Linked DNA regions of Homo sapiens. The protein of the gene in region 4 purifies or fractionates together with the protein of the main gene of each other region. This does not show direct contact. Each region holds a gene or a part of one and is shown on either strand. Other genes may lie near its edges. The genes, in order: YEATS2, SIX4, ASXL1, KDM6A, TFE3, KANSL2 and KAT14.

Region 1 (3,500 bases), on a different chromosome or scaffold from region 4:
CTTAATTTCTTTGTGAAAAGAGAGAAACTACATGTAAATATGTAAATAAATGCCATAATCACCCCATATTTGGGGTGTGTGCATGGGCGTATTTACCTGTGTAAACAATGTGGTTTTCTGTCCAGAGATGACTTTTAGCGTTTGTTGTCCTTGTGCAGAAGATGTGCTGACTCCCAGTGTTCCTTGGACCACTGACCCAGTGGTGAGTTGTTTTCCAGAAGTCTGGGGTGATGGCTGGCCAACTAAAAATGTGCCCTAAGTTAGAAAAAAATATAAAGAACTAATCGGTAATTTGTTAAATTCAGATGGGCTGTTCTGATCCCTTAAATCACATGTAACGTCCCATGTTACAAGCTACAACGCTCTCCCCTTTAATTCTGCAATGTAGGCAAAATAATTCAAAAGAATAGTTGTGCTCTAAGTGTTACTTCCATTAGTTATCCCCACTTCTCAAACTTTGCACTGTAGTTACAGAGCAGCCTGTTGAAAACTCATGTTTTGCAACTTAGTCCTCAAAACTGGATTTAATCATTCAGACTGATATCATCTTTCTCAATAAGAACATCTGGAACCAAAATTCTATTACTTTCCTTCAAAAAGAGCCAAGACTTCAGTGACAAGAGGAGACGAGGAGGAAACCTGTTCCTAATCAAATCTAACTTAACTCTAAATATTACAACTTGATACCATCTCTTTGATCACTCCCTTCTATGAGCAACTTTTCAACTGTACATTAATACTGTTTATTACCTCATGGATTTTGGAGGCAATTAGCATAGTAGAAATCTTTAAGGCAGGAAGATCTGGGTTTAAACCCAAATTCTTTTCCTTTTTTTTTTTTTTTGAGACAGAGTCTCACCCTTTTCCCCCAGGCTGGAGTACCATGGAGTGATCTTGGCTCACTGCAACCTCTGCCTCCCGGGTTCAAGTGATTCTCCTGCCTCAGCCTTCCAAGTAGCTGGGATTACAGGCATGCACCACCACACCCGACTGATTTTTGTATTTTTAATAGAGACAGGGTTTCACCATGGACCAGGCTGGTCTTGAACTCCTGACCTCAGGTGATCTGCCTGCCTCGGCCTCCCAGAATGCTGGGATTACAGGCGTGAGCCACCGTGCCTGGCTTAAACCCAAATTCTACCATTGGCTTGGCAGGAAGATCCTGGATAAGTTACTAAAATCTTTCTCAATCTCTACTTCCTCTTCTCTCAAAGCAAGCAAAAAAGATAAAAACACATAGTTTTTTTTTGAGAAAGGGTCTCACTCTGTCACCCAGCCAGGGTGGAGTGCAGTGGTGCGACCTCAGCTCACTGCAGCCTCAACCTCCCAGGTTCAAGCAATCCTCCCACCTCAACCTTCGGAGTAGCTGGGACTGTAGACGTGCACCACCACGCCCAGCTAATTTTGGTATTTTTAGTAGAGACAGGGTTTTGCCATGTTGCCCAGGTTGGTCTCGAACTCCTGGGCTCAAGCGATCCACCCACCTTGGCCTCCCAAAGTGCTAGGATTACAGGCATGAGTTACCACACCCGGCCAAGATATAGATATAGATAACACGGTTAAGGTGTTAGTATTGAACCCTGATCCCAGAGCCGTAAAGGTAAATCAATTATAATTAAGCATAGTTATCCAATAGCTAAATGATTTAAAATATCAGTTACAGAGAACCAGACCTGGGGAGTTTGCTTGAGGATGTAAGATGTGTAAGTCAGGTGCTGAGATATCCCTCCAGGGCCAGCAGTACTTTGAGTTCCTCCTCCTGCTGTTCCTCCTCCTCCTCCTGTGCTGCCGCCTCCACCGCTGCCACTGCCGCCTCCTCCTCCTCCTCCTCCTCCTCCTCCGGCACCACTCCCACCACTGGCAGCTGAGCCAGACTGGAGATCTAAAAATACAATGAATGACAGCAACATCATAAAAAGTATCAAGCAAAGCTTTAGCATAAAAAACAAATGAGCCCAGAGAGATGTTTCCCTTTTAGTGCCATTCCTTCTTCTTTCCCATTTTCCTCCGTCTTTTCTGTAATCTACCTACCCTGTGACAAGAGTGAGGAGAACTTCCTAGATTTTAGATCAAAATCTATTTCCTTTCAACTGCATGACAACTGACTGTATTTCGGCTCTGAGTACAATGAAGATACTTTGACGTGGTCGTGGGAGATCAAGAGAAGGCTTGCTACTGACATTTTCTAGCCAAGTATTTTTTTGAGACGGAGTCTCACTCTGTCGCCAGGCTGGAGTGCAATGGCAAGATCTTGGCTCACTGCAACCTCTGCCTCCCGGGTTCAAGCGATTCTCCTGCCTCAGCCTCCCAAGGAGCTGGGACTACAGGCGTGTGCCACCATGCCCAGCTAATTTTGTATTTTTAGTAGAGAGGGGGTTTCACCATGTTGGACAGGATGGTCTCGATCTCCTGACCTCATGATCCGCCCGCCTTGGCCCTCCAAAGTGCTGGGATTGCAGGTGTGAGCCACTGCACCCAGCCTCTAGCCAAGTATTTTAATCAACACTTAAATGTGCTCAGCTAGGTGCTTCCCAACTTTTGGGCATCTGATTCAATGTCAGGGAATTGCTGGAATTTAGTGTAACTTTACAGTGCTCGATGTTGTCTCCCTGTCTCAGGAAAAATGAAGACTTTCCTTCATTTACAATGACTCCAGGACCCCATTCTTCTTTGCCTTTCAAATCCCACTTCAAAGCCTTGAAGTCTTTTTACTTCTCTTTTGGTGAGATAATGCATTTGAACTACCTGGACTATGAATATTCACTCAACAAATACTAACTTCCAATTTCCTTCTCCACCTTCATTCCAGTGATTATTGGAATAGCTTCCTTCCCAATGGTTTATTTTTGCACCAAGGATATCACAAGAATCTAAGTAGCTCCCTGGATGACTTCTGAAATATTTACATTGTCCTTTTCTTACACATTTAACTTTTGGACATACCACTGCTTAGGTATGAGGAAAAAACACCAAGTGAGAGTGGAACTGACACATCATGGTCAATGAACGCAAGGATGATGAGCTGACACACTGCATTTTGGCAAGGGCGGTTAACTTCCAATGACCCTGAATGCTGTACCCTTCTACTTCTGATTCAGAGGGAAATAATTTCCTTTTATCCTATCCTTTTCAACACTGCCCAAACGGTTTTTCTCTATATGTCAAAGCAAAAGTTTCTTTAACTGCAGATAAACTGCCTCATTTCCATGGGGCTTTAAGACTTACAAACCTAGGTAGAGTCTGTATTTCTCTTTCCATCTCCAAACCTAGCAGAAGTAAGGAATACATCCAAACCAGCTGTCCCCAAGCTTTGTGGCACCAGGGACCAGTTTCATGGAAGACAACTTTTCCATGAATTGGGACAGGAGGCGGGGGGTGGTTTGGGGAAGAAATTGTTCCACCTCAGATCATCAGGCATTAGATTCTCATAAGGAGCACACAACCTAGATCCCTCGCATGCACAGTTCTCAACAGGGTTCGCGCTCCTGTGAGAATCTGAT
Region 2 (3,500 bases), on a different chromosome or scaffold from region 4:
ACACACGAAGATTAGCCGGTCATGGTGATGCACGCCTGTAGTCCCAGCTACTAGGGAGGCTGAGGCAGGATAATCACTTGAACACGGGAGGCAGAGGCTGCAGTGAGCCGAGATCGCGCCACTGTACTCCAGCCTGGGTGACAAAATGAGTCTCCGCCTAAAAATAATAATAATAATAATAATAATAATCTTAGTTGCTCAGACTGTAAAGTGAGTAAAAGATGTAGATATTCTACTTTTCCACATAAATCCCAACTATAGAAAGATAAGTCTATCTTGTCAAGACATTTTAAAGAATGGCTCAGTATCTGTTTGTGAGAAAAAACTGAATCCCCAAAATGTTTTATTGAGAACTGCAATACCTAACTACCATAGAAATGTTGCTTACTGGATTAAACTTAACTATCTGGTTAAACTTAGACTGTCTGTTCAACTCACCCAGACAGTCTAAGATTTGATCTTACTTATTTTAACTGAAAATGCTATTCTTATTCCTATTAAATGTCCCATTTAAAAACTCAGCTATTAGTTCATAATAATTTTCTATGGCAGTGCTCCTCTAGATTACACAATTAAAAGTATTTCTACTTTTCTCCTCCCCCAACATACATAACTCATTCTTTCTGCTCAAATTTGTTGCCTTTAAAATGTGACCTGTTTGGAAATTTTCCAAATGAGAGAAAAGGGGTTAGATCCACATTAAATTATTATCAAACTAAGCACTTTGGCTTTCCCTGTGGTTTTCATATTTTTGCCCTATGTTAGATAGTAACTTAACTCTTTCCATAACTTGGAACAATGATGAACTGAATAGTATGCTGCAGGAATGTCTTGTTTTAGTACCATTTTGCCTAAAGAAATGCAAATGTACAGAATGAAATTTAGAACAATTTTTCCATTAATTCCTTCAATAAGCTGACATAGACCATAGTTGTGGTAACAAGAGAGTTGTGCATAAATTGATTTTTTTGGGGGGGTGGTAAAACCATCTTATAGGAAGCAGACCTTTAAAGCCAACAATTACTACTTTGGTTTTGTAAAAATCTGGATTTTCAGATTTGTCTACAAGAAGGCAAACGTGCATTAAGATCTACCCTTCCTGAATTCAAGGGATTATGCAAACTCCACTGCCAAATTCTAACCATTTCTATTTCTTTAAAGAGAAAATGACATAGAGGATCCAGGCTTGCTTAAAGTCAGTGAAGAACTAATATATCAGCCTCAGTTTTCCTGAATTTCATTTAAGTGCTTTCTCTGGAAGATTGCTGTTAGTAAAGCCACAAACATATAAAATAAGGCTTACTATTATCTTCACAAATAAACCCACACATTTAGGGGGTTAGTATATATGCTGAGCGATAGAAATCCAATGGCATATTCCTCTGATTTTCTTTTAGGTCTGTTAGTCTTCATTATAGGAGGAAACAGGATTCAAACATAATTGATCCGGTCTTTTTAGCTTGTTCTTCTAAAACATTTTTTGGTCAAATAAATAATGCTTAGGTAAAGTGTATGCATTCTTACCAACTGCTAGACTAATTTTGTGTTCTTAGCAATTTTATTAATTTTTAATATTAAAATGCCAAGCAGTGAGTTATTTTGTAAGCACTGATTGACTTATCATATTTCTGTAATTGTAGAACTGGCAGGACTTGCTATGAACTGTATTTTTCCATTCAGTTGTTAGTAAAATAAAAGCCCATCCTCATGATGCAAGGGAATAAAGCAACCTGGATATGACATGGGTATTGTGAAAGAGGAGAATCACATCAAGGCTACTCTACAGCTTCGGCAGCTAATAAGGTACCTGAACAGAAACATCAATCTATAGCTATCACCAAATGCGTCACTTACAGCAGCTGATGAACACATTTGCTGGTGCATTAAGGTACCAAATGAGATTGTTACCTTGTGAAGCTGCCACTGACACAGGGGGCAGCTGCAGTGGAGAGAATCCAATGCTCCCATTAAGGAACTGGCTGTTTGCTCCGGAATTGGGGATCTGGACAATGCCATACTGGTTAATTTGCACTGGTGTAGTAAAAGTCACTACAGACCCTCCATCTTGGGAAGCCACTGTTTGAATGCCTTCTCTTTTCACCTCAGTGCTGGGTATCAGGCCTGGGAATGAGACAGGGACACTGGGGCTGTAGGACGTGGTGGTTGCTGAGTTAGCAGAACTCTGGAGGACTTTGAATTCCTTCACGTCCTGGGAAGTAGACCCCAGTATGTCAGTCATGGATATACCATTGCTCACAATGTTTGATGACATTTTTGGTGGGTTCAATGCCACTGCCTGTGTATTTCCCACATTTAATCCATTAAGGATAACTCCACTGGGTCCCTGAATAAAAGAATTTCCATTAAGGAAGACAGGTGAAGTACTTGCAGGTACCAAGCTTCCATTCAACAGAACTCCAGAAGAGCTTAATGATATCTTAGCATTTCCAATTTGTTGCATATATACTGGCTCCATATGACTGGAAAGGCTGAGGTTGGTGATGCCATCAGATGAACTGGAGAGTGGGTGAGGAGATAAATCCTCATGTCCCTTGCTGGATTCATCTTCAGTGCTGGGGTTGCCATCTGACTCACTGTATGGAGGGGGAAATCAAAATGTTCAGAAGGTCAGGGGGATGACATTCTACACAGTGCCACTTGTTTGGAAAACCAGCTTCTAAATCCATTAAAGGCAGTATTTAAGGAAAGCACAGCAGGATATCTGCTAGTCCTATTTAAACTAAGAGGCCTTTCAGCAGATTCCGACCAGCCAGAGAATCTGGGAAGATAAACTCTCAGATCCCAATCATTTAAAATAACAATAAATTCAGGGAAAGTCCAGACATCTGCAAGATGTAAATTCAGCATTACAGGAGAAGAACATATTTGATTTTACAGTGTAGAAGTGCTATTCCTTACTGTTACATATGCTGCTACTGACACCATAGAAAAAAACACCTTAAATGAGGTGGTCGGTCTTTCCTGTTTAGGAACTCCTTCCCCTCCCCTCAAACCAATTCAGATTAGTGTTATCTTGGAGGTAAATGAAGCTGCCAAAGGAGCAGGAGGTAGGAAGTGCTCAGCTTTTCTTTTTTGGTCAGTTAGTTAACAAGAGATCGTTTTCTCACCTGCTCCCAAACTTCTACTCCACCAGACTGACAACTCTCTCATTCAACAAAGTGGCTGTCCTTGTTGTAGGAAAAGGCACTTTCAACCCAAGAACAGTTATGTGCAGTCGCCTTTGAATCCAAAGGAAGCCAAAGGGGCCTATTTAACAAACACCATCCAGTGCCCTGGTGAGGTGGGAGGGAAAGGGTGTCACTCAGAGGCCTTCTAACTATTAGACCTCTTCCCCAACGTCCTTGGTCCCTCTGTTCCAGGCAGGACCCTGTTCCTCAGCTCTCTGACTTGGGAGAAATACCAAATCGGGGTTGGGGGGTGGGTAGTGATGGGGTTTCCCATTTGGTCTGAGGCTGGGAGGGAGAGCAAACGAGAGCAGA
Region 3 (3,500 bases), on a different chromosome or scaffold from region 4:
ACTTGAGGCCAGGAGTTTGAGACCAGTTTAACCAACATAGCAAGACTTCATCTCTAGGAAAAAATTTAAAAATTAGCTGGGGTGATGGTGTACGCTACTCGGGAGGCTGAGGTGGGACTACTGCTTGAGCCCAGGAGTTCAAGGCTACGGTGAGCTATGATTATACTACTGCACTCCAGCTGTGGACAACAGTGTGAGACCCTGTTTCTAAAAATATAAATTAATATTAAATTAAAAAATAATAGGCCAGGTGCAGTGGCCCACGTCTGTAATCCTGGCAGTTTGGGAGGCCAAAGCCAGTGGATCGCTTGACCCCAGGAGCTCGAGACCAGCCTGGGCAACATGGCAAAACTCCTTCTCCACAAAAAATACAAAAAATTAGCCAGGCATAGTGGTATGCGCCTGAAGTCCTAGCTACTCAGAAGGCTGAGGTGGGAGGATCACTTGAGCCTAGTAGGTCAAGGCTGCAGTGAGCTGTGACTATGATACTGCACTCCAGCCCAGGTGACAGAACAAGACCCTATCTCAAAAAATAGATAATATTAATAGAAAAATGCCATTAACAGGCAATTAAGAATGATAAACCTCAGATCATCATAAAGGCTATCATTTATTAAGGACTGACTCAATGCCAGGGATGCATATTCCACCAAAAAGAAGGGTTAAATCCCTCCCAGGTTACAAAGCTAAGTTTTTGTTTTGAGACAGGGTCTTGCTATGTGGCCCAGGCTGGAGAGCAGTGGTGTGATCACAGCTCACTGCAGCCTCCATCTCCAAGCTACCCTCCTGCTTCAGCCTCCTGAGTAGCTAAGACTATAAGCACACACACCACCACGCAAGGCTTTTTTTTTTTTTTTTTTTTTTTAATAGAGACAAGGTCTCATACTCCTGAGTTTAAGCAATCCTCCCGCCTTAGCCTCCCAAAGTGCTGGGATTACAGGCATGAGCCACCACAGCCGACCACAAAGCTAGGTTTTGGGCTCAGTGGCTCTGTCTCTTCCAAGGCTCGATTACAAGAAAAGCATACAAAACTGAAAGGAAAAAGACCAAACTATTGGATATAAAAAAATATAGAAAACAGCACAGACATCTGACCCCAAGATAAACTTTATTTATATATAAAGACCAAGTTTTATGGCTTCATGTTATATAGTTGGTATTTGTTCAGGTATTTATTTTGAATACAGTCCATCAAGAAAACAAAACTTAAAGGAAAAAGTTTGTACTGACTGCTAAAATTTATAACCCACTATGGAAGAACGAAAGGGTCAGCATCAAATTTTCAGTTTCTCCAATGTCGACAAGTCATCTTATGTCTAAATCAGGGGTCGACAAAGTACAGCCCCAAATCAAATCTGGCCTGCAGCCTGTTTTCGTAAGTAAAACAAACATTTGTAAATAAATTTTTTTTTTTTTTGGAACACAGCCATGCCCATTCATTTGGGTATGGCTGCTTTCCTACTACAATGGCAGACCTGAGTGGTTAAGACAAAGACAGTATGATCCACAAAACAAAAAAACATTGATTTTCTGGTCCTTTACAGAAAAACTTTGCAGACCCCCGGTCTAAATGATTACCATATATATCACAAATGGTGGAAAAATAATTAGCCTGTTCATTTCGGCCCTATTTAAGCTTTATTATGAACTCTACCTGATTTAAGTACTCTTACTTTATAATTACTGTCACTTAATTTCCACAAATATGTTCACATTTCAGTTATTTTCCATAGAGTAGGTCTTACATTAGCTGACCAGTAATTTATCCTTCACATCATTACTACAACAAAATCCTAATTAAGGCACATCTGTGGCCAGGTGCAGTGGCTCACGCCTGTAATCCCAGCACTTTGGGAGGCTAAGGCGGACGGATCACAAGGTCAGGAGTTCAAGACGAGCCTGGCCAACATGGTGAAACCCCGTCTCTACTAAAAATACAAAAATTACCTGGGCATGGTAGTGCACTCTTAGCTACTCAGGAGGCTGAGGCAGAAGAATTGCTTGAACCTGGGAGGTGGAGGGTGCAATGAGCTGAGATCGCACCACTGCACTCCAGCCTGGGCAACAGAGTGAGACTCCATCTCAGAATAAAAAAAAAAAAAAAAAAAAAAAGGCACATCTGCAATTATCCCCATAGTTATGCTTCAGTTTTGTACAATCTACAAAGATATAGACAAGAAAAGATGAACACACAAACAAGAGCTGCTATGACTAAATAATTTCTAATATCTGATTCATATTAGAACACCTCAAAGTGCCATTTAGAACCAACAGCATCTGGCCAGGTGCGGTGGCTCATGCCTGTAATCCCAGCACTTTGGGAGGCCGAGGTAGGTGGATCACCTGAGGTCAGGATTTCGAGACCAGCCTGGCCAACATGGTGAAACCCCGTCTCTATTAAAAAAAATAAAAAAATTAGCCGAGCATGGTGGCATGTGCCTGTAGTCCCAGCTACTTGGGAGGTTGAGGTGGGAGAATCACTTGAACATGGGAGGCAGAGATTGCAGTGAGCCGAGATCTCGCCCCATTGCACTCCAGCCTGGGTGACACAGCGAGACTATGTCTAAAAAAAAGAAAAACATCAGTGTCACCTGACTGCATATGAGAAATGCAAATTCATGGCCCCTATTCCAGACCTACCAGGTGATTTTTATGCACATTAAAAGTCCAAGAATCACTGCACCAAAAGAGAGTTCATATCACTTACCTTGAGCGTGAAAAGGCTGATTCGGCCAGGCAGTTTATAAAACAACCCCTCTCCTCCTCTTGAATTGGAATGTAGCATAGCATTGAGGCATGCGAGAGGGGAAGTCCCACTGTAAAACCACAAAAGAATGGATGAGGGTTATACAATCCATCTGCCTACTTAAAGACCTAATCCCTCCAACTCATTCTTAAATGAGAAGAAGCTAAGCAAGAAATACAGAAGAAAAAATCTCATGACAATTTCACTGTGAAAATAGTAAAAGAATAACCAAATGAAATTCACATAAATCACACTCAGAAAACTCTGGAATAAACATTATGTGATACCCGAAATCCATAACTAACACTTCTTCAGTGCTTTTTGACAATATAAATCAAATTTCCAAGAAATTTAGAAAAACCTCACAATTTTTTCAAGTTATATTTTAATAAGTTAATAAATTTTTAGTAAAATTTTACTATTAAAAGTTTCCTAGCCTCTATATTTCAATCTACATATCATACTCAGAAACTGCCACAGAATACTATGACAAAGAATCACAGAATCAATGGTGCTGTGCCAATAAAACAAGCAGAACTTTTTTTCCAGTTAAACATTTTCTAGTAAGTACACAAAAAGAACAGTATTTCATTTGTTTTTTCTCTGCTGGAAGTGGGGAGATTGAGTTTTATTCTGTATCTACCCAGGAACAATTATTTAAACCTAAATGCAAAAAGTAAGTCAAGTGGATTTAGTTCCCAGTAATGCTTAAAAAATAAACTGAAACAATGGCATACTAAGTTGTTTCATGGTC
Region 4 (3,046 bases):
TAGACTTGCATCAGGTCCTCCATTTTGTACTGTTCTAGCACCACAAAGTTTTCCAAGTTTCCGCTTGTTTTTCGTGCACAATCTTGGCAATGTACTATGTAGGTCTTTCGTGAATTACTCTCATTAGTGACAAAAAGCAGATCAAAAACCTCCACCTGTTTTATACAAGAGAAAAACGTATTCAATAGAGATAGTGGTATTTACTGTACTGCTTTAGTATAATCATGGAATTCTACTTGAATGAAATTGTGGACAGTGATCTCTGGTTAAGAGTAGGTGGTAAGAAAAACATGGCTGTGTTTGAGAATCTTTAACAGACCAGGTTTATTTTGCACCAAATCCAAAGACATGGGTAGTAATGCATATTTAGGGGAATAATCAAAGGGAATGACATACTCATGACAACCACTGGCAAAGCCCAGTTCAAAAGTTTGATAAAGGTCAACCTATTTTTAAATCTAAAACATTAGTATACAATCAGACATAAGTGATCATTTTTATGTATTCATGAGTACAGCATGATTTTAGAAATAATACCTCTATCTTATACAGAAAGATTGATGAGTTGCTAGGGTTCAGGTAGGATAAGGAACAACACACCTAACTGGAATCTATCTGATCTCCTAATGACTCACTTTGGTCAGGCCATATGACATTTAAAAAAAAAATCAATGGATTCTATCATTTCAAATAAAGGTTGATGCTAGAATTACAGAATTTCAAGGTTTGAAATGGACCATCAACATCCTGTCTTTGGCTTATCCTTAAATTTCTTCAATGACAGAAAACTCTTATGATCCCATGTCTTCTTTTAACAGTTAACTACAATCCTAGAGTTCACCATGTTATCCATTACTGTCAACAAGCAGCAATACAAACCTAGTGACCTGAGCTAGAAAATTGGTGAGCATTCTTCAACTTGTCCTTCCACTTCTGCCATTTAATGAGGTGTCTCGCTGATTTTACCCTCTAAATATTTTTGAATTCTTTCCCTTCTTTAATATTCCCATTGCCAGGTTCTAGTCTAGGCCTTAAAATAACTTTTTTTTTTTTACAGGTACTTTATTTATTTATTTATTTATTTATTTATTTATTATTATTATTATTTTTTTAAATTATACTTTAAGTTTTAGGGTACATGTGCACATTGTGCAGGTTAGTTACATATGTATACATGTGCCATGGTGGTGCGCTGCACCCACTAACTCATCATCTAGCATTAGGTATATCTCCCAGTGCTATCCCTCCCCCCTCCCCCCATCCCACAACAGTCCCCAGAGTGTGATGTTCCCCTTCCTGTGTCCATGTGATCTCACTGTTCAATTCCCACCTATGAGTGAGAATGTGCGGTGTTTGGTTTTTTGTTCTTGCGATAGTTTACTGAGAATGATGGTTTCCAATTTCATCCATGTCCCTACAAAGGACATGAACTCATCATTTTTTATGGCTGCATAGTATTCCATGGTGTATATGTGCCACATTTTCTTAATCCAGTCTATCATTGTTGGACATTTGGGTTGGTTCCAAGTCTTTGCTATTGTGAATAATGCTGCAATAAACATACGTGTGCATGTGTCTTTATAGCAGCATGATTTATAGTCATTTGGGTATATACCCAGTAATGGGATGGCTGGGTCAAATGGTATTTCTAGTTCTAGATCCCTGAGGAATCGCCACACTGACTTCCACAATGGTTGAACTAGTTTACAGTCCCATAACTCTTAAGACCACTGCAATAGCTTATATATCGCTGTCCTTTCCAACCACTTTTCTCCCTGAAACACATATCTTACTTACCCTTAGTTGCCTGCTCAAAACCTTTTAATGGCTTCAATAACCTTGGAATATCAAATTCCTTAAAACCATTCAAGATGTGCTATAAATTAAATGCCACCTAGACTTATGAGCGGAATTTGCACAGTCTGTGTTCCAGCCAAATCGGAACACATTCAACCTTTTCTAAAACCATTTCATTTCCCTGTTCTCTTCTTGTGCCTATAGCCCATGACAGTCTACCTCCGATTCTCATCACTTTTTTAGTCTACTTGATATCATACTCTTTTTTCCAAGGATGGACTCAAATGCTAATACGTTTGTGAGTTCTTATGCCAATACTAGAAGAAAAAATTAGGTCATTTTCCCCCTCAGTGTTATCATTAACAGGAAGTCCAACTTCACATTCATCATAGTCTCATGTACATTACAATTAGTTGTTTATAATCTGTCTGCTCCAAGTAGAATTTAAGCTCCTTCATAGGAGGCACCACATCTTTGTTCCTGCACCTCTTGCAAGCCTTGGCCACACAAGATTGACAAATGTATTGTTAATTGCACCAGAGAGGACTGATAATCGATCTGCCTAGAGTTACACCAAACATCCAGTTTATTGGCATCTGTGTACATCTAGATTGTTCTTAGTTTAAAATCTCAGACTAAATTTGCTGATTATTGTCTGTTGAAGATCTACCACAAAAATGACTCTGCAGTAGATACTTTTAAGGTTAATTCACAGTGAAATATCATTATTATCACACTGAATTTTAATATAATGGCTAAGCAACAAAATTGAATCCAATGTTAATTACTATAAACTGGATTACATAAAAGTATAAAAAAGTTTTTTAAAAATAAAGAGAAACCAACAGTGGAGAGGGAAGAGGCTTTATAAAACAACTGTGGATAAAAACAATTACTTACTTCACAAATGCTACAGTAATGAGCTGGTTCTTCTTTTGTCCGCCCATGCCATATAATCTCTTTTCCTGCAGCAATGAGAGCTTCCCTCAATGTCTGACATTGCTTCAGAGTTCTTAGAAGACAATACCTATTGTGGGGGAGAAATTATTTGTGACCAGCAACTGAATATTGAATATTTTTAGCATAAAAGATATACCAACTAGAAATAATGCCAAGAGACTTGATTCTAATGTCTATGACTTCATAATTTTTCTTTCATCAATTTATCAAATATTCTCAGATTTTAAAATGACAATGCTCAGCAGGCCTGATGAAGACAATATTAAAACATTTAAAGTTGAGAAAAGTA
Region 5 (2,566 bases), 3.9 Mb from region 4:
GTCCTTTCCACCATCTTAAATACCTCTGTTGTCTGCCAGGAAATATCCTCATAGACTTCTTTATCAGTTTCAAAAGTGGATTTGCAAGAAAAGCTTCTTTCCCCCTCTGCCCTCAGTGGCATTTTTCAATCGAGCCCTCACTCACCTGACTTTACTGTTTTACCGCCTCACCCATTTACAGGCTTGCATATCTTCAGAACAGTTCAATTCTATTCCTCAGCTTCTTCAAAGACCAAATGGAAGTAAGAAGCAGCATGTTCTGACTAACATCCCTTTAGAGAAATAAATTAGATGAAACACTTGCAGCAGTTAAAATTGTGCCTGGTGATTGGTCTTTAAAAATACTGTCTTTTGTTTGCATATTGTCTTCCTCCATGCCCTCTTCCTTTCTAAATTCTTTTATCCATCCTTCTGGAATCTGTTTCTCCCAAGGACTTTTATCCCTCTTGGCCTGCATGGGCTATGTTCACTGCACAGTGTAAAACAAGGACAGGAGACTCTTTGCCAAAGTTAAAAGCGCATCAAACACGCCTAGCTTTTATTATTTTAATCACAAACCTATAGACCCCTCAGTATACCCTCCATGGGGCCTGGCCCCAGCAATCCAAAGCTGACAACCTTGGGTGTAGGTATGAGGGGTGGGAATGGAGGGGGGAGTGTCTCTTGATAACTCTGAAATGGGGTGATTCCTCCAAATGAAGAACTGGGTGGGGAACAGAGGTTGGGGTGGCCTAGATTCTCAGTATGCGGAGCAATAAAAAAATCAGATAAACAAATGAGGGGGTACAATATGCTTTTACAACCCTCCTCCAAGCTTCTGCCTTGCTGGGGGAAGGCTTCCAGTTTTTCCTGGGCTGGGGAGGTCCCAGGATAGCCCCTTCCTTCATCCTCTTGCCCTACATGTTGAAAAAGAATACTGAGGTACTGGTTCTGGTAACCTGAACTCAGTCCCCCACTAATACCCATCACCTTCCCAAACTGCCCCTCAAGGAAGAAGGCAGGACTCTGCCCAAGGGTGGGGGCCTCTCACTCCAGATATAGGTCTGGAAAATTCATCCATGAAATTTCATAATCTGTCCCCTTCCCCAAGAGCAAGGTTGGCTCAGAGCCCTCCTAGGTTAGGTCAGGTTGGTCCCAGGTTAAGGCAGGGGAGCTTAAGTACCACTCCTCCCTGCAGTGTGGAATGCTTAGATGGGATGTTGCTGAGGGACAAGGGTGGGGCTGTGATCTCCACAAGCACTAGCGGTGGCCTGGTCCTACTGATTCTTTCACACCTGAAATACCTGTGCTGGGCTGTTCCTATAGGGAAGGGGTGGGGCCTGGCTCCTCCATTCCTAGAAGGCCAGGAGAGTTCCCAGGGGAAGGGGCTGGGTCTCATCCTCACTTCTGTTCCTTGCCTGGGCAGAGCAGGGCAGGGTTCATGGGGAAGGGGCAGAGCTTAAACCCCCAGGGCTGGGACCTCCATTACTTGACTCCTCTTCTGTGCCAGGACGGACTAGACTGGTGGTTCCAAGACAAAGGATGGAGCAACATCCTGACATCTCCCTTTCCCAGGAGACCTGGCTAGGACAGTCCCTAGGGGACAGGGTCGAGACCTCATCCTGTCTCCTTCCCTCACCTGGGCAAGGATGAGTCCCACAGGGGCAGGGGTGAGGCTGTGATCCCCAGGGGGCAGGCCCTGATCTCATGTCCTTCTCCAGCCTTCTCCTTCTGAAATACCTGCACTGGGCGGTTCCTTTGGGGAAGGTGCAGGGCCTCATCTGACTCCTCCTCCTTGCCTGATTACAGGGGTGGGGCCTGATCACATCTCCTCTTCCCCCAGGATACCTGGGCAGGGCAGTCTCATGGGAGGGTGGGGGAAAAGGCGGGGCCTCATCCTGACTGGTCCTCCTTTCCTGGGTGGGAAAGTCCCAGGGGAGGGGTGAGGCCTGATCAGGACTCCTCTTCCATGCTGAAGCTGCTGCGGCGGCTGCTGGCCTTGGAGACAGCAGGGGACACTGAAGAGAGCAGGGGATCGGAGGCAGCCCGCAGTGGGGACAGGGCACCCCCCGACAGTCCTCCCACCACCCCCTCCTCCTCCTCCATCAGAATGTCCTCCAGCCCCAGGTGGAAGGGGTCTCCCAGGTCCCCCAGGTGGTCGCTGGGAAAGTGCAGGTCCAGAAGGGCATCTGAGGGCGGTGCAGGGGGCTGCTGATGGGGAGCATTCTGGGCAGGTCCCCCCCCTACATGGAACGTTGCTGCGCCTGGCCTGCCCTCCTCCTCAATGTCCAGCTGCTCTGGCTTGAGGCTGTCAGAAGCCGAAGTCGTGGCCAAGGAAAGCAGCCCTGGAGTGGGAGGTACTGGCAGGCCATGGATCTGGGCCTGCAGTTCTAGTTCCTGTAAAAAATAGGGGTTGGGTGCAGGATAAGTAGGGTTCAGAGTCCCTCAGAGGCAGAGGAGTATAAAGGTTGAAAAGGGTAGGTTCCCTGGGTTGGAATTCAGCTTCTGCTACTCACTAGTTCCAAAACTTTAGGCAAGGTGCTTAACATCTCTGAAGCTTCAGAGTCGCAAACTGTAAAGTGGGTAT
Region 6 (3,500 bases), on a different chromosome or scaffold from region 4:
TTAGAGTAATTGTCAAAACACTATGTCCAGTCTTTTTTTGAGACAGAGTTTCAATCTTGTTGCCCAGGCTGGAGTGCAATGGCGCCGTCTTGGCTCACCGCAGCATCCACCTCCTGGGTTCAAGTGATTCTCCTCCCTCAGCCTCCTGAGTAGCTAGGATTACAGGCATGTGCCACCATGTCTGGCTGATTTTGTATTTTTAGTAGAGACGGGGTTTCTCCATGTTGGTCAGGCTGGTCTTGAACTCCCTATGTCCAGTCTTGGATCTGAAATCTGACTTTTTGCACATGGGTTATAGTGAAAGCACTTAGCTTGAAGTCAGGAGACATGGATTCTAGTGTGAGTCCCCACTGACCAGCTCTGTGTCTGCACAGTTAGCTTAAATTTTCTGGGCCTCAGTATTCTCATCTGCATATTGAGTAGTTGGGAAAAGTTTCTAAGTCCTTGGTTCAGATATTCTTCAGTTCAGAAATAAGCACAGGTTAATCCTAAATTGCTTGGGAATCTTGTTTTAAAAGGTGGGAAGGTAGAATAGGAGCAATTGAATGTCAGGAAGTAAGGTTAATAGGAAGAAGAATTAAGTGATCATTCTTAAATTTGTTTTTCAGACCCTTGGTCTCTGTTTCAGTAAGAGTAATTTTGTTTCATTTGTTGAGATTCCACTTAAGGCTGCAATTTCAGAGTTCTGTTGGTAAAAGACAAAATTTGTGTTAAATAGGCTATATCACACTTTTAGAATATGGAGAGGTGTATTTGGGATTGAGGTTGACTCATTCTTTATGCACTAGGTTTTAAAGTTTTTTGTCTTTTGCATAATATTGGTGAATCTATTTTTGTTAAATGTTGAATTTCTAGCCTTTAGGATGTGCTTTTCTTATATAACTATTTTCATCGTAATTGTTTGTGTGTTCTTTTGTGGGTCTATTTTATCTGTCTTTTTCCATTTCAGGCCCATACCACTCGTTCCAGTCAGAGGTGCTTGGCCTTTGTGGATGATGTTCGTTGTTCCAATCAGTCTCTTCCAATGACCAGACACTGCCTTACCCGTATCTTTTTACTCTGCCTGTTAAGGCTGTGGTTTGCTAGTTTGAAGACTAGTGGGAATCTCTGTGCTAGTTTGCTTAATTGAAGGATTTTGTTTTCCTTTGGCCCTGAATCAAGGCCAGCAGTTTGCTGAAGCTGTTGGTTTCAAGCAGGAGCCTAAAGAATTGTCTTTCTATGGTCTGTTGGCCATTTCATAACTTTGGAAATGTAATGGTCAATTCATTAGAAAGAAACATGAGTCGTTTTTCATAGATGTGGGCTAATATTTATTTATAGCCTTAATACTTGGGTCCCAAAATATACATAAAATATTTGTAATTGTCTCAAGGTTTCTGATTTAACTTGCTTATTAGGATCCTAATGCTGTTAAATCTAATTATAAACTTAAAAAATTACTGTGGGTTTTCCACCCCAGTTGAAAGGATGATTTTGCACTGTGAACTTCTAGTATTATCCTTTTGTGTGGTTAGGGCCCTCACTTCTGTATTTTATTTTATTTTTTATTTTTTGGAGATGGAGTTTTGCTCTAGTCTCCCAGGCTGGAGTGCAATGGCGTGATCTCGGCTCACTGCAACCTCCACCTCACTGCACCCTCCGCCTCCCGAGTTCAAGCGATTCTCCGAGTAGCTGGGATTATAGGCACGTACCACAATACCTGGCTAATGTTTGTATTATTAGTAGAGATGGGGTTTCACCATGTTGGCCAGGCTGGTCTCGAGCTCCTGACCTCAGGTGATCCACCCGCCTTGGCTTCCCAGAATGCTGGGATTACAGGAGTAAGCCACTGTGCCCGGCTTTTATTTTTTTATTTGTGTTTTTTGAGACAGGGTCTCACACTGTTATCCAGGCTGGAGTGCAGTGGCTCAGTCATAGCTCACTGCAGCCTTAACTCCTGGGTCAAGCAATTCTCCTACCTCAGCCTTCTGAATAGCTGGGACTATGTATGTGTGCCACCATGCCTGGCTAATTATTTATTTTATTTTATTATTAATTATATTTTTTGAGGCAGAGTCTCGCTGTGTCGCCCAGGCTGGAGTGCAGTGGTGTGATCTCGGCTCACTGCAACTTCCACCTCCTGGGTTCAAGCAATTCTTGTGTGTCATCCTCCTGAGTAGCTGGGATTACAGGCACGTGCCACCACGCCTGGCTAATTTTTGTATTTTTAGTAGAGATGGGGTTTCACCATGTTGGCCAGGTTGGTCTCAAATTCCTGACCTCAAGTGATCTGCCTGCCTCGGCCTCCCAAAGTGTTGGGATTACAGGCATGAGCCACTGCACCTGGCCTATTTTTTTTTTTTTTATTTTTTGTAGAGTCAATTTTCAATATGTTGCCCAGGCTGGTCTCAAACTGCTGGGCTTAAGCAGTCTGCCAGTCCTTTCCTCCCCAAATGCTGGGCTTACAGTCATCAGCCACTGTACCTGGCCTTTATAAACTTAAAAAAGAAACTTGGCTCTTTAAAAAGTTTTCTTTTTTTAATTTTTTTGAGACAGAGTCTTACTCTGTTGCCCAAGTTGGAGTGCAGTGGCATGATGATGGCTTACTGCCGTGATCTGCTGGGCTTAAACGATCTTCCCACCTCAGCCACCAGAGTAGCTGGGACTACAGGCATGTGCTACCACGTCCAGCTAATTTTATTTAATTTTTGTAGAGAGGTTGTGTCACTATGTTTCCCAGGCTGGTCTCGAACTTCTGAGCTCATGTGATCCTCCCGCCTCAGCCTCCCAAAGTGCTAGGATTACAGTTGTGAGCCACCATGCCCAGTCTCTTGACTCTTTTGTGATAACACTTAGTCACTGTGCCTGGCCTCTAACTTGCATACTTTAAACATCATTCAAATTAGAAGTTTGCTATTTCCAAAAATGAGATGCTTTTTTTCTTCTTTTCAATTAATTTGCCTTTGAACCATCATAATGTCTCTTGATTCTGTTAAAGGACTACATTTGGCATTGGGCCTTCAAACTTTTTTGAGTTGTTGATTGAATTGTGAAAGTGCTTATTTATTATAGGCATTGAGAAAAATTTCGCAGTAAAAGCACTTGTTAATTAAATAGGATTGCTGGATTTCATTTGCTTGGCAAGAAATGCCAAATATTTGGAAATTAAAACTTATTTTCTTTATTTGTTTTTTTTGAGACAGAATCTGACTCTGTCACCCAGGCTGGAGTGCAGTACCGTGATCTCAGCTTGCTGCATCCTCCACTCCCCTGGGTACAAGCGATTCTCCTGCCTCAGCCTCCCAAGTAGCTGGGATTGCAGGTGCCTGCCACCGTGCCCAGCTAATTTTTGTATTTTTAGTAGAGATGGGGTTTCACCGTGTTAGCCAGGATGGTCTCGATCTCCTGACCTTGTGATCTGCCTGCCTTGGCCTCCCAAAGTGCTGGGATTACAGGCATGAGCCACAGCGCCCGGCCACTTATTTTCTTTAATAGGGAGAGGAGAAGGAGAACCTCTTCTT
Region 7 (2,836 bases), on a different chromosome or scaffold from region 4:
TTGACTAAAAAAAATTCTAGGGGAAAAAAATCCTTGCATGTTTTTTGATGGTGATATATGGTGTATTTTCTTCAAAGGTGATACAAATATATTAAAGGATGAATTATAATTCAATACTAGAATCAAATCTTAGAAGGTTCATATCAGCCTTATACAGTGATAGTAAAATTACAAACTATCAGCAAAAATAAAATATGTAGCTAGGCACAGTGGCTCATGCCCATAATCCCAGCACTCGGGAGGCTGAGGTGGAAGGATTGCTTGAACCAAGGAGTTCAAGCACAGACCAGGCAACACAGTGAGACCCTGTCCCTACAAAAAATCAGCCGGGCATGGCAGTGTGCACCTGTGGTCCTGGCTACCCAGAAGGCTGAGGCGGGAAAATCACTCGAGCCCAGGAGGTTGAGGCTGCAGTGAGCTATGATTGTGCAACTCCAGTCTGGGTGACAGAATGAGACCCTGTCTCAAAAAATATATACATATTCTTATTGATACAGTTGTGCTAAAATGTTTACAAATATTTAAAAAAATAAAAATAATAGTCCTACCCTCACTTCTCTGAGTTGCGAAGGTGATGATCCTAAGAGCAGTAGCTACTACTAATATGAATAGTCCACCCTAAAGCTCTTGCTTTTGGTATTTTCTCATTTTATTTATACACATGTTCACAAACTGGTTTCTATGAAACCTGAGTCTGAATAATAATCTTATTTTAGAGGGTCGAAGATTTTTGACTGTGTGCTTTGATAACCTCATGAATGCTGATGACTGGCTTTCTTCACTTGGTTTACAAGGAAACCATTCCATTGGGCCATGCTGGGAAGGGCTAGCTCAGCTTCATTCCTCCTCCAGGTTGTTCAGGGGAGCCCAGACACAGGTGATAAATCATAAACATAGACAACTTACCTGAATCAGATGATAGATCATGAAAGTTGCAATCCCTGCTCTTCTCCATTCAGGGTGGACGAACAGAAATGAAATGTAAGCTTCATTGTATTTCACATCAGGAACCATGAAGCCAAAGGCAATGATGACTTTTTTATAAAGAACAACAACACTGAAGTCTGGGTACTGCAGACACTCAGACAGGTCAATGCCTAAAGAAAAGAAACCATCGGAGACTCAAACCACATGCCTTTGAGAATTAAGGAACACCAAGCTGTTCAGCATGTACATATAGCTACACCTGCATGCTAAAAAAAAAAAAAAAAAACACCAAAACTGGAGGTAACATAGAGACCACACAACCAGATCATAAAAATAAGAGTGAATTTTAGAAAATATTGAAATTACATAGTATTTCCTAAAAGAAGAGTGGCAGAATAGGGTAGGTAGCAGTGCACGGGTTCAGAATTGGACACAGCTGGCTTTGAACTCAGCCTCCTCTACCATGTGTGGCTTGGCACATTTCAAAATGTCTCAGAGACTCCGTTTCTGCAATATGTAAGATGAAGAGCATACCTAGACCTGACAGGGTTAAGTAAAGATCCTCCGAGCGTGTTCTATCACATCCTTTACCCCCCACACATATAATTTATAAGTTCTTTTGTACAAATGCTACCTTTCACAATAAATAAGTAAAATATGCTTCTGTGCATAATGTATGGAAGGCACCTAACATAAGGGCAGGAAGCAGGAGATGCTCCCAGAATGTTACTTTTGGCTCAGTATGACTCCCAAAAGAATGAGTGCAGCTCTGCCACCACATTCACAGTTATGTGATTATGTGACAATAAAGACGACACAGCTCTATCTTGATGAAATCGTATCTAACATCTGAAAGACATGTATTATTTCCTTTAGGTTTCAAGGCAGCGTGGGAAAGCAGATCCACAAAGAATAGTTTATATTTAGCAATGCAAATGTGTTCCTTTAATTAATGACTTTGGTCTTCAGAGGCAATTTTGTTAAGGCTGATAAAATGACAAATTATATTGGGTTTACCCTTATTCTCAGTCTGTGATCAGGGCATTTGGCTTTTAAAAAACACCTTCTGGCTGTACTAATACTCTCTAAGGAACAGCTAAATAAACAAAACATAAAGAATTATTAAGCCAAAAACAAAAGTGTCCAAACACGCCCAAGCTACCAGTCTGTGTATCTTTGATAGACATTACCTGGTATCTAAACATATGCAGAAGCAAAACAGGATGAATCTTTTACTCTGGAAACAGAGACAAACAGGGAAGAGAAACAAACAAAAACACTGTTTATTGCTGGCTTCTTCTAGATTTTGGGAAAGCAAGAGGTATTTGTATTTTAATATTTCCATGTTAGCAGAGACAAACTAAACGAAATCATAAATAAAAATCTTAAGGATATCACATAAACTAATTTTAAAAATTGCTAGAATGGACTGTACAGAAAAATGACCTGCCTGGTTTGGGAGGGGGAACATACCAGGCCAAAAAAACTCCTGACACATGGAGTTGATCGTTGGGATGTGATTTGGCCGCACATAACAGTAATCGAGAGGTGCGTCGGGCTCCGGCGTCCAGTGAGGGTCGCTCCTGTGCAGGTGGGAACGAATCTGTGACAGGAGCTGCAGTTTGGGTGGCTTTGTTTCATAATCACGCCTCCGGTACCACAGAAGATAAACAAATTCAAGTCAAGAAAAATACCTGGTATTATTCCTAGCTTTTTGACTCATATAAACTCTTTGATCTGCTTGAAACTTTAAAGTAACCTGCACTGTTTTACACGAAGCTGGCTTGATTACAGCTATACTTTTATGTATGAAATCTAAAATTCACTCTGAACATTCATCAGGCCAAAGCCCTCTGTACCCACCAGGGACTGTGCTAGGTGCCTTCATGAACAGTGAGGAAACAGATAC

The links.
Region 1: the proteins of KDM6A (region 4) and YEATS2 purify together in Homo sapiens (affinity purification with mass spectrometry, with the first as the bait; one large-scale study listed by BioGRID). This does not show direct contact.
Region 2: the proteins of KDM6A (region 4) and SIX4 purify together in Homo sapiens (co-immunoprecipitation; one study listed by IntAct). This does not show direct contact.
Region 3: the proteins of KDM6A (region 4) and ASXL1 purify together in Homo sapiens (affinity purification with mass spectrometry, with the first as the bait; one large-scale study listed by BioGRID). This does not show direct contact.
Region 5: the proteins of KDM6A (region 4) and TFE3 purify together in Homo sapiens (affinity purification with western blotting; one study listed by BioGRID). This does not show direct contact.
Region 6: the proteins of KDM6A (region 4) and KANSL2 purify together in Homo sapiens (affinity purification with mass spectrometry, with the first as the bait; one large-scale study listed by BioGRID). This does not show direct contact.
Region 7: the proteins of KDM6A (region 4) and KAT14 purify together in Homo sapiens (affinity purification with mass spectrometry, with the first as the bait; one large-scale study listed by BioGRID). This does not show direct contact.

What each region holds. Positions count from the first base shown.
Region 1 is NC_000003.12:183,774,297-183,777,796, reverse strand, and holds part of YEATS2 (YEATS domain-containing protein 2), read right to left. Parts: intron 1,883-3,500; coding exon 1,674-1,882; intron 256-1,673; coding exon 97-255; intron 1-96. UniProt on the Homo sapiens protein: Chromatin reader component of the ATAC complex, a complex with histone acetyltransferase activity on histones H3 and H4. YEATS2 specifically recognizes and binds histone H3 crotonylated at 'Lys-27' (H3K27cr).
Region 2 is NC_000014.9:60,717,852-60,721,351, forward strand, and holds part of SIX4 (homeobox protein SIX4), read right to left. Parts: intron 3,294-3,500; coding exon of another isoform or gene 3,272-3,293; exon of another isoform or gene 3,257-3,271; intron 2,595-3,256; coding exon 1,909-2,594; intron 1-1,908. UniProt on the Homo sapiens protein: Transcriptional regulator which can act as both a transcriptional repressor and activator by binding a DNA sequence on these target genes and is involved in processes like cell differentiation, cell migration and cell survival.
Region 3 is NC_000020.11:32,368,331-32,371,830, reverse strand, and holds part of ASXL1 (polycomb group protein ASXL1), read right to left. Parts: intron 2,817-3,500; coding exon 2,708-2,816; intron 1-2,707.
Region 4 is NC_000023.11:45,107,188-45,110,233, reverse strand, and holds part of KDM6A (lysine-specific demethylase 6A), read right to left. Parts: intron 2,825-3,046; coding exon 2,698-2,824; intron 156-2,697; coding exon 1-155. UniProt on the Homo sapiens protein: Histone demethylase that specifically demethylates 'Lys-27' of histone H3, thereby playing a central role in histone code. Demethylates trimethylated and dimethylated but not monomethylated H3 'Lys-27'.
Region 5 is NC_000023.11:49,028,226-49,030,791, forward strand, and holds the end of TFE3 (transcription factor E3), read right to left. Parts: intron 2,377-2,566; coding exon 1,933-2,376; 3' UTR 501-1,932; downstream 1-500. UniProt on the Homo sapiens protein: Transcription factor that acts as a master regulator of lysosomal biogenesis and immune response.
Region 6 is NC_000012.12:48,665,239-48,668,738, reverse strand, and holds part of KANSL2 (KAT8 regulatory NSL complex subunit 2), read left to right. Parts: intron 1-949; coding exon 950-1,046; intron 1,047-1,145; exon of another isoform or gene 1,146-1,282; intron 1,283-3,500. UniProt on the Homo sapiens protein: Non-catalytic component of the NSL histone acetyltransferase complex, a multiprotein complex that mediates histone H4 acetylation at 'Lys-5'- and 'Lys-8' (H4K5ac and H4K8ac) at transcription start sites and promotes transcription initiation.
Region 7 is NC_000020.11:18,182,863-18,185,698, reverse strand, and holds part of KAT14 (cysteine-rich protein 2-binding protein), read right to left. Parts: intron 2,577-2,836; coding exon 2,401-2,576; intron 1,098-2,400; coding exon 907-1,097; intron 1-906. UniProt on the Homo sapiens protein: Component of the ATAC complex, a complex with histone acetyltransferase activity on histones H3 and H4. May function as a scaffold for the ATAC complex to promote ATAC complex stability. Has also weak histone acetyltransferase activity toward histone H4.